Regions from separate parts of the Homo sapiens genome. Here region 2 is linked to region 1. Evidence: fine-mapped expression QTL. A gene starts in region 1. The other region holds a variant in brackets. All regions are shown on one strand. Distances are from middle to middle.

Region 1 (5,373 bases):
TTTAGTCATCTCATATCTCCCTCTACCTACGCATTCTACCTATTCTTTTTCAGCTTTCACGAATTGAAAGGGGAAGGGAGAGGCAACAGCAGACACTAGGACTATTTTGAGAAATAAAAGGATTCAAAAGTTAAGTGCAACTTCCACTAACATAGTAACACATCTCCCAGGAAGCCCAGGTGACTCAGAAAGTCCTATATGTAGAATATCAATATAGAAACAACTCAGTTTCCATACTTCAAAAGACCTCTTCCTCCAAGTTGAGTTTCGTGCAGATAACTGGCTGATATGTTTCAGATGGAAGCAAATCTGAACATTTCCAAACAATCTACAGGAAGAGATAACCAAGTAATATAGTCCATGCAGCAGAGATAAGCAACTTTCCAGGGTATAATTCAAATCTCACAAACATCCTTAAGAGCCCCAAGTCTATTAAGATCTGGAGACTGTTAAATAGGCAGGACAAAATATCCCACCAACCACCTCTCCAAAAAGCATTGTTCTCCTCGCACTGACACTTGTATTTCCCTCTGGCTTGTTTTTGGAAAACAAATTGAAAAAAAAAACAAAAACAAAAAGTAAACAGTAGTGCCACATCTGTTCTTGTCTTCCTCACGATGGCAGATCACACACACTACCACCATTCCAAGTGCCTCCTGAGCCCCTTTCCTCGACAGCCCCATCCTTCCACGTGTCCATAACTAGGCTTCTCAACTGCAAGGGGGAAGTGAGCAGGAAACTTCAAATGGGACCTGAAGAGGAAATAATGATAATAATGTAAATTGCTACTAATATTAAAAGGGGGAGGGTATTTTTTCTTTCTTTTTATTATTTTATTTTATTTTATTTTATTTATTTATTTTTTTTGAGTCGGAGTCTCGCACTGTCGCCCCGGCTAGATTGCAATGGCGCGATCTCGGCTCACTGCAACCTCTGCCTCCGGGGTTCAAGCGATTCTCCTGCCTCAGCCTCCGGAGTAGCTGGAATTACAGGCGCGCCGCCACGCCCGGCTAATTTTTTTTGTTTTTAGTAGAGACGGGTTTTCACCATGTTGGCGAGGCTGGTCTCGAACTCCTGACTTCGTGATCTGCCCGCCTCGGCCTCCCAAAGTACTGGGATTACAGAGGTGAGCCACCGCGCCCGGCCTCTTTCTGTTTTTAAACAAAACTTCCATTACAAACATCGGAGGCTGCAAGGCACAAACTGGGGCAGGAGTATGCACAGTCGCCCAGGATGACAAGTGGCAGGTTTTTTGTTGATGGTGGTGGTGTTCTGAAACACCAAACTTTAAAATGAACTGTTACTTAGAGAATTACTGTAATCGGAGCGGACGTGCTAACGCTTTTTCACCCCGGCACAAAGCACGCCCCTTCTGCCTCCCTTTCCCAGTCATTCTTCAGGCGTGCGGGAAACCGCGGACAAGCAGAGCACGGGGACCAGCACGATCCTCCTGCCACCACTCCAGTCTCTGCAGGTGCCAGCATAGAAGAAAACCAGGGCTCTCGCCTCCCTCCCCGCCACTGCGGTGCGGTCCCGGGGTGGAGCCACGGCGCGCCCCATCCTGAGAACCCCACCTGGAGGGGAGCAGGGACGCAGGAAGGGCACCGTTGGGAGGCATCACTGGGTTCGCTGAAGGCACAATCGCGCGCGCACACACATACACAGACACACATACACACACGCACGCACACACACACACACACACACAGCGGCGCGCGGTGGCGCGGGCGGCTGGCGCGTTACCTGTTCTGCCAGCCCTGGAGGAGGTTGGTGTATTTGCTGAGCACGCCCTCGAGCGCCGGCTCCCTCCTGCGGCCGCCTCCCCCGGACGGGCTAGCGGCCACAGAGCCCGGGCTGCTGCGGCTTCCCCCGCCGCCGAGCCCGGCCGCCGCCGACCGGCTGGAGACCCCCCGGCCCGCCAGAGAGCAGGAGGGCGAGGAGCCCGCCGAGGTAGCACGGCTGCTGCTGCGGCTGCTGCTGTTGCTACCCCCGCCGCCGTCTGTGCCCTGGACTGCCCTCTCCATGGTCCGTGGGCGCCCGGGACGCGGGTGCCCGCCGCGGTGGCGGCCCCGGCACGGCGGCTGCTGCTGCTGCTACAGCTCCGGACGCCCGGGCCGCGCGTGCCTGCTCCAAATCCCCGGGAAATGCCTGACTCATACAGGAGGAAGAGGAGGAGGAGGCGAAGGAGAGCTGGGAAGGAAGCCAACGGGGCTGGATGCAGCTGCGGCCGCCCCTCCTCCCGCCGCGGCCAGGGCCCGGCCCCTCCCTCCGCACTAGTTTCCCGGGCAAGTTCGGAGCGGGTGGCCGGCTAGGCGAGCCCTCTTCGGGTTCCTCCTTCTCTTCCTTCGTGTCCCTGCGGCCTCTCAGGCCCTCGGGACACTCTAGGAGGCCGATCTGCAGGGTGGGCACGCCCTAAATCCACGCCAAGTCACCCACGCATTCCTTCTGCCACCCTCTCTTGGATCCGAAGGGGCGAAAGGGAATCTCTGCACGTCACTCCCCACCCCTTATCCACCTCGGGACCTGGAGGGAGGGGCAGCCCCACCCACCCGGTCCACCCGGATATGGACCCGCCCGGCCTGACAGGCTCACACGCACACTCCCTCTCTCGGTCTTCCGCACACGATGCTGCGCCAGACGCTCCTACACAGTAACCTGGAAATTATCACCGGCGGAGCAAAGTCACAGCTCAGGGAGGCCCTCCGCGTTGTCTGGCGGAGGAGGGGAGTGGCAGGTGATCCTCACAGGTAAGCTCGCCGGGCATTTTCATGCAGCAGGATTATGATAAATGCTTAACAGACACACGGCTGGGCTGGGGTGAGGCGCGCGAACTCTCAGGTTTGTGCGAGTGCTTCCTTAAATTGAGTGTCCTAGGTCACTCACTGGCCTAACCCTAATCCCCTGCCCTGAATGGCACGCATAAACCTGGCAAGTCAAAACCTATCCATTGCTACCACACTGCACGTGCACCTAGGAGCAGAGGCTCTGAAACCGGGAAAACTGCTCCAGAGGCAAGGGAAATTAACAGATATTTACAAACATTGAAGGATTCTCTGTGTTGGCTGTAACTTCTGCGCCCCTCTTCCTACCTAAAGATACTCTTTCTATCCCACTAATATTTTTTGTGAATATAGATATCCATTGTAATCTGAAGTATCAAAAATTACCTAGAAAAAAGCTTTGAGGAACTCAGACTCTCTCTCTCACACACACACAGACAAAACAAAAGGTGATAGATGATAGGTGATCTCCGTCCAAAGGATCTACAAACCCATCAAGCAGATAAATACTTCAAGAGTTAAAAAAAATTACTAAATGGAAAAGTCAGCTCTCAAAGGGACAGTTCCCCGAGCCCAACCCCTTTCTAGCTTCACATCCTTCCAGGAAGATTTCATGGGTGGTTTAGCTCTAGAGATGCACGGAGAAGCTTCTGGAGTTGAAGAGAAGTGGTTGTGCCCCTGAGTAAATTACAATTCCAGGTGCCTACATAGTGTTAAAAAAAAAAAAATCTGAAAAGAGCTTGCCTGGACCAAATTTGAAGCCATTCAGAGCTGAATTCTAACCTATGACCTTGATCAAATTACCTCTTTTAGCCTTAGTTTTCTCACTGCAAAATGGGACAAATGATACCGGCTGTAATAAACTATGCAAGAATGTTCATTTGTTCAAAATATTTACTGCCGCTTCCTATGGAAAGAGTATCCTTCCTCCACATGGACCTTAGGCTTGGCCATGGAATTGCTTTGAGCAATGGAATGTGAACAGAAGTAATGAATGCCCCTTCCAAACATAAGCTTTAAGAGCAGTCATATGGTTCCACCATCTTTCTCTTTTCCTTATCCCAGGAGAGCAGCATGTCCCGGATAAGGACTCTCCTTAAGCTTGTGTCCTGGAGTGAGAAGGTGTGGAATACAGCAGATCCTAAGCCAGTTAGTGTTGGCCATGTAACATGCACAAAATGTTTGTTTGAAGCCATTGAGATTTTAGCATTATTTTTTACCACAGCATAGCTTTGCCTAAGCTAACTTACTGATCATATATGAGTGTTCATTGAGTCCTGCATTGACATACAGACTGAAGGTGGGAAGGTAGGTGCATACTGGACTATAAATGTCAGCATTATGTACCAAAACAACATGCCTTTTATTGGAGACTGCCACCTTAAGCTCCTGCTAAAAGAGGAGAAGTGTCATTTTATTTCATATTACCTAACCTATGCCACCATTACTCCACCTTATGCAGCCAACCTAAGACTGAATGAGCTAGCACAACAAATTCTCACCTTGGACTAAAAAATTAGACCCTTGAGATAGACCAGTTCAAGTGGGGAAGGAACTAAGCTAAAAGGAATAGTCAAGGCCAGGATGGGGCAGGAGCAAGCCAGCCGTATGGGATCAAAAATGTCCAAGAGGTGAGTGGAGCAGATGTGCTGAAAGTAGAGGCTATATCATGAAAGAGTGATGAAGCACATGCTGTTCCTCCTGCTGGTGACACTGTTCCCTGCTCTCTTCACCCGGTTTGTGTTTCTCACCCATGGAGTTATGGATTACAAGTCACTTCTTCCAGAAAGCTTTCCTTGACCTACCGTAGTATAGCAAATAGGGAAAAGGTACCTGCAGAATTATGTTTGGAGAGGAAAAAGTCTTTATGTTTGAAAAACAATTTGGAAAATACATAATAAGTTGGCAAAAAGTATTTGAAATACATACTGTAATGCCCAACAGTTTCATCTTGCTTGTTACCCGGAAAAGCCAATGCAGGTTTTTGCAATAGAGGAAGAGTTTAACAATTGTAGGGCCAGCCAAGCTGGAGCACAGGAGTGTATTATTACTCAAATCAATCTCCCTGAAAATTCAGAGCCTAAGGGGTTTTTTTTGTTTTTGTTTTTGTTTTTGTTTTGAGACTGGAGTCTCGCTCTGTCACCCAGGCTGGAGTGTAGTGGCACGACCTCAGCTCACTGCAAGCCCTGCCTCCCGGGTTCACGTCATTCTCCTGCCTCACAGCTTCCCCAGTAGCTGGGACTACAGGCACCTGCCACCATGCCCAGCTAATTTTTTTGTATTTTTAGTAGAGATGGGATTTCACTGTGTTCACCAGGATGGTCTCGATCTCGTGACCTCGTGATCCGCCCACCTCGGCCTCCCAAAGTGCTGGGATTACAGGCGTGAGCCACCGTACCGGGCCCACCTAAGGTTTTTTTTTTTTTAAGGATAGTTTGGTGGGCAGAGGGCTAAGGATGGGGAAGCTGATAGATTGGGTGAGGGATGAAATTATAGAGAGTCGAAGTTTGTCTTCTTGCACTGAGTCAGTTCCTGAGTAAGGGCCACAGGACCTGATGAGCCAGTTTACCAGACTGGGTGGTGGCAACTGGTC
Region 2 (5,373 bases), 21 kb before region 1:
GTGCAGTAACTCTCGGGCCACCAGAATACCCTTGTGACCACAATGTTAACTTAGAGCTAAAGCGTGACTTTGCCACTAAACATCTTTCAGCCCCTGAATAGCCAATTACCTGATTTACTTTAGCTCTGGCCTGATTTCTACTAATATTTAGGGCTGAAGTAAATAATGAGTGAAGTATTACTCTTGCAATTGAAAAAAGTTAAAAATGCACAAAATGACAGTACACCTCACAAATTAGTCCTTAAAAATATCTTCTCTGACAAATCTAGTTTGTATGTTTTAGGCCTCACTAGATCCAATGTAGTAACAACTGTCAGATATATGGTGTGTTATGCTTTTTAATAATATCAACTGGTATTGCGCACATCAGGACTTCACAGAGGTACATATGCAGGAGGACAAGACTCAAAAGAAATGCACAAAAATCAGTAACAGTTGTATTAGGATGGGAGGACAAGGGCCCATTTTTTTCCCAAAAAAAGTCTTTATATTTGTTATGTCAACTTTTCAATAACACAAAGCATCTTTCTCACCATGGATGCTACATTTCAACTGAGATGTTTATGTTCTGAATACTGGATTCTTCTCTCTCTCACACAAGAGCCAAGGGTGTTTCGGCTTTGTGTTCCAAAAGCCTCTAAACTAGAGAACAGGCCTTTGAGCCAAATCCAGCCCACCACTTATTTTAGCAAATAAGGTTTTATTGGAACAGAGCCATGTCTATTTGTTTACATATTGCCTAGGGCTGCTTTTATGCTGCCATGGCAGAGTTGAATTATTTACTATCTGACTCTTTACAAAAAAACCTTTCTAACCCCTGTACTAAACCAAAGAGTAAGCACTCCAGCACATGGGAAACTCATTAATGCACCATGGAAGAGACTCCCAAAGGTCAAATGTCATCTCTAAAGGGTCAGGGCCCTAGAAGACACTTCCAGTAATTGTGATCCAAAGTAGCAGTTCAAGAGTGGAGACGCACGCAATGGAATCACACATGCTGCATTTGCCAACAAGCCAAGGTCCAGGCAAGAACAACTCTCAATTAAAGAGTGCTCTGTCCTAAAGAAATGCTACGAGATATCGGCTCACAGAGAAAAGTCTCAAATTTTTAATGCAGTCTAATCAAATTTAGCCAGGTCCCTTCCTGAATTTACAAGTCCACCTTCTCTTTTTGCAGCACTATAAACAGTGTACTATCTACTGATAGATCAGAAGCAGTCCTAAAGGCCAGTTCTGTATTCATAACCTGGAAAATAAAATAAAAGCAACTTTGTCTACTGAAAACTACTGTTAAACCCAGTCTTTTTGCTATATATCAGAGGAAATTAGCATGAGACTCAGAGATAAGATATCCCAAACACAATCTGTTAATACCCCAGGATCACTGGGTTCAAGGAAGAGCTCTCTGCACATTTTGAAGTTTTCGCCATCACTCAAAGCAGCTAATACATAAGCCAGAACATCAGATGAGTCTCAGGGCATCAGCTAGATAATGAGAAGCCAGCGGGTATTCTTTGCTATATAACAAAACACAAGGCAAAAAGACCATTTTTAGCATCACCTTTCTGGAGTTTTTCCAAAACTGACTGAGAAGCATATTCTGTTTCTTGTTCTAACTCAGCGACAAACTCCGTGTGTAACTTTGAATTAAATGTCATCTATTTGAGGCAGTTTCCTCACCTGTAAAACAGAACTTGGGCAAGTTCACCTGAGCACCTTCAAGCCTCAGAATAATGCTCCATGAAAGAAAATGTTAGCCTCCCTCTCCCCTTGACTAGGTTATTTTGGTTTATTGTGAAAAACACTTGCAGAAAAAGGATACAGGAAAAATGCCAAAATTATTCCTGGATTGTGACGTGGCCACTGTGCTACTTAAAATCAGGTTCTCTCAAATGCAGAAAATGAAAGTTGCCTATCAGTGAAGAAAAACAAAACTCTCCCTCTTAGGTCTGATGTACTCCATGGAAAAATGTCCTTCCAAACTCCCTGAGGCAGGGAAGACTATCTTAGCACTTTGCTGAGTGCTTAAGAAATTACGTACCGAAAAACTTCCCTGATCTTGAAGCAGCTCACAGTCTGGGAATCTGGCAGATAGGGAGTCTCAGAGATCGCTTCTGAACTTTTACCAGCCTCCCAAAACAGCACCTCATCCCTGGGCCCCTGGGTGCCAAAGGAATCCTTCAAAATAAGGCTGGATCCAGCCACACTCCGCTTGTCACTCAGACCCTCAGCTTCCCTCACCACGTTCAGTAATACAATGTGAAATGAAACAAACCAGAACCCTGCATTCAGGGTATTCACATTCACAATAACAAGGGCATTTGCATCAATTAGGATTATAAACAGACTGTGGAAATGAGATGCAATAGGGGAACCAGTTTAAATATTTTGTTGTCTGGCCAAATTCCTTATTCAGATCCAATTGACCTAAATGAGAAAGCAAGGCTAAAATGGACACCAGAAGGTTGCAAGCTAGTTTACATAACACAGGCCCTCCCCAGCTTAAACTATCCATTTCCAAGTAAAAATGGAAGTTAACCCTTTCTCCTCTACGTCTCTCTCTTCACAAGCTCAGAAACCAGAAGAGCATCTCTGAACCTTCCCCACTCTGGAAACTGTTGCAAGAGACTGTGCAACCCACTTCTCCCTCAAGGCCATCAGCCATGTGCCATCTGTGCCCCTACCCCACCCTACAAATGCTCACCACCAGGAGAGAATTACCAGCACTCTCTCTTACAGAAAAACCATCCTCTTTATCCTCTTTAATCCTTATTCCTCCTTTAAAAGGGAAAATAGATTACAAGGTCTAAAAACCTGACCTACAAAGGGTTAAAACCAAACTGCTTGAACCTCAAAGCTGCCCAAAAAATGGTGT[A/C]AACCACCTAGCAGCTCACAAATTCCCCAAGGGACCTCCTTCTGTCAATGTTTAACCAAGAAGCTACAGCCTTTTTTTTTTTTTTTTTTTTTTTAACTTGCCAGAGCCATTCTACATCAAATATTCTTCATGTGCAACCCACTCCATAAAGAATGAAGCTATTCTATAACAAATCAAGTTCTGAAGCTCTCCAAACCCACTCTTTGGCTCAACAATCAAATATGGAGCACCACCTAAGCAAACACGAGCCCTGTACTGTCCTTGTGGGTGAGGCTAGATCACGAGTCACCAAACAAGAATGTGGTGGTAGAACCTAAATTTGAGGGATCTGCAGTGCCCAGGAAGCCAGGGAAGGCTTCAGGAGAAAAGTGAGCTCCCAGGGCTCGGAAAGCTAGCGTCTCTGATTTTATTTTAGTAGACAGATACTATTTTTAAAATGTAAAGTATCATTAAAAAGGCTGTGCATGTGTTGGAGTAGGGGAGACATGGGAACTCTATATTTCCAATTTTGCTGGGAGCCTAAAACTGCTCTATTTAGAGAGTGTGTGTGTTAATAATGTTAATAATGCTAATAATGCTGGGAGGGGGCTGGGCTAATTATTGGTGTCTTTTGACATTTGTATTTTATTTATTTATTTTTTAGAGACAGGGTCTCACTCTATTTCCTAGGCTGGAGTGCAGTGGTGCAATCATAGCTCACTGCAGCCTTGAACTCCTGGGCTCAAGCCATCCTCCCATCTCAGCCTCCTGAGTATTAAATTTCATTTTAAATGGCATATATTCTAGTGTATAATTATAATCTTTACAGAAATTAATTAATGTACACCAGCAGATGTTCCTGTTATATTTCTAAAGGTTCCCTTTCAAGATAATTGCTATTAATTACATTTAAATAAGTTCTCTAATTTTGGCATCACCAGTTTTGTTTTGGTTTTTTTTTTTTTAAGAGTTTTTTTTGGCAGAGGGGAGGGTTGCTTTTTTTTATTTTTATTTTTTGAGACGGAGTCTCGCTCTGTCGCCCAGGCTGGAGTGCAGTGGTGTGATCTCAGCTCACTGCAACCTCTGCCTCCTAGGCTCAAGCAATTCACCTGCCTCAGCCTCCTGGGTAGCTGGGATTACAGATGCCCACCACCACGCCCAGCTAATTTTTTTGTATTTTTAGTAGAGATGGGGTTTCATCACGTTGGCCAGGCTGGTCTTGAACTCCTGACCTCAGGTGATCTGCCCACCTTGGCCTCCCAAAATGCTGGGATTACAGGTGGGAGCCACCGCGCCTGGCCGGCATCACCAATTTTGGATTCGAGGTCCTGTAGCCTACTATTAACACAGATAACAACTATAATTCTGTTGAATAAATGATTTTCTAAGCAAATAACAACAATAAAGTTATTTCATGGGTATAGTTTCAATTTGGGATGATAAAAAAGTACCGGACATGAAAAGTGGTATTGGTTTCACAACAGTATGAATATACTTATGCCACCAAACTGTACACTTACAAATGGTTAAAATGGTAAACTATATGTTCTACATATTATAAAAGTAATGAAACACTATTTTTTTTTTTGAGATTTCACCATCTTTAAATGGGAACCAGCACAGGAGAAGTGCCATAAATACTCTGCCTGATTCCAGGGGGCTTTTACCCGCAAGAAATGTACAGTTAGGGTTTCAATCGCTCCCATTACACTAAGTTGTAACGCAAGCTCCCTGAGACAAAACTTTTCCATTTGGCTGTTTTCACAAAGACCACAGGAGCACATAAAGTCTTGTCTAGGGGAGCAAATCCAAATCACTTGGGTGCAAGGTAAATGCACAAATGGGAAAAGCCAATGCCAAAATCACTGCTGCTTTGATAGCATTCACTAAACAAATATTGAGTACCTACTATGCGCCAGGCACTGTGCCAGAACTTAGGTCTAATGCCTGATCTCCTGGATCTTGCAATACAATGACTTGCTTTCAATCAAAAGACTTCACTTTTGTGGCAATTTCAAATAATATTACAGGAAGTGGTGTGACTCCTGTTTCTCAAAGGAGCCATGTGTTTCCTTGTTTTCTGTTTTTTTAAATGTGTACTTTGAAATGACTCAAACTTACCAAAGAGTTGCAAGAATATGACAAAGAACTCCTCTATCTCCCTTCACACAGATTCAAAAATTATTGATGTTTGCGTACATCTGCTTTATCATGCTCTCTAGCCATCTCTCCCCTCCCTTCTCTCCCTTCCCCGTCCTTCCTTCCTTTCCTCCCCTCCACCCACATCCATCCATCTCCCTCCCTTTCCCATCCCCTTCTCCTTATATAAAGTGTTTCCTCAACCATCTGAGAATGAGTTGTAGACATCTCCCTTTATTCTTAAATATTTCATATTTATGTATTTATGTATTTTCCAAGAACAAGGACATTTTCTTATAGAACCATATGATGATCAAGTTCTCACAGTTTAACACTGATTAAATACTATTACTTAATACTTAAATGCTGCCAGTTCTTCA

Evidence for each region.
Region 2: its variant is fine-mapped to the expression of OSBPL10 in whole blood (TOPMed, PIP above 0.99).

The regions. Positions count from the first base shown.
Region 1 is chr3:31,979,156-31,984,528 of GRCh38, forward strand. OSBPL10 (oxysterol binding protein like 10) reads right to left here and starts at 2,107. Exons shown (of 12, transcript NM_017784.5): 1 at 1,744-2,107. The coding sequence starts at 2,024. ZNF860 (zinc finger protein 860) reads left to right here and starts at 2,595. Exons shown (of 2, transcript NM_001137674.3): 1 at 2,595-2,747. RefSeq lists an enhancer at 193-242 and a silencer at 1,797-1,866.
Region 2 is chr3:31,958,102-31,963,474 of GRCh38, forward strand. The region is part of intron 1 of OSBPL10 (oxysterol binding protein like 10); the gene reads right to left. Among named protein-coding and RNA genes, the nearest start is that of OSBPL10, 20 kb to the right of the region's middle. The variant A/C (reference allele first, on the strand shown) is at 2,876.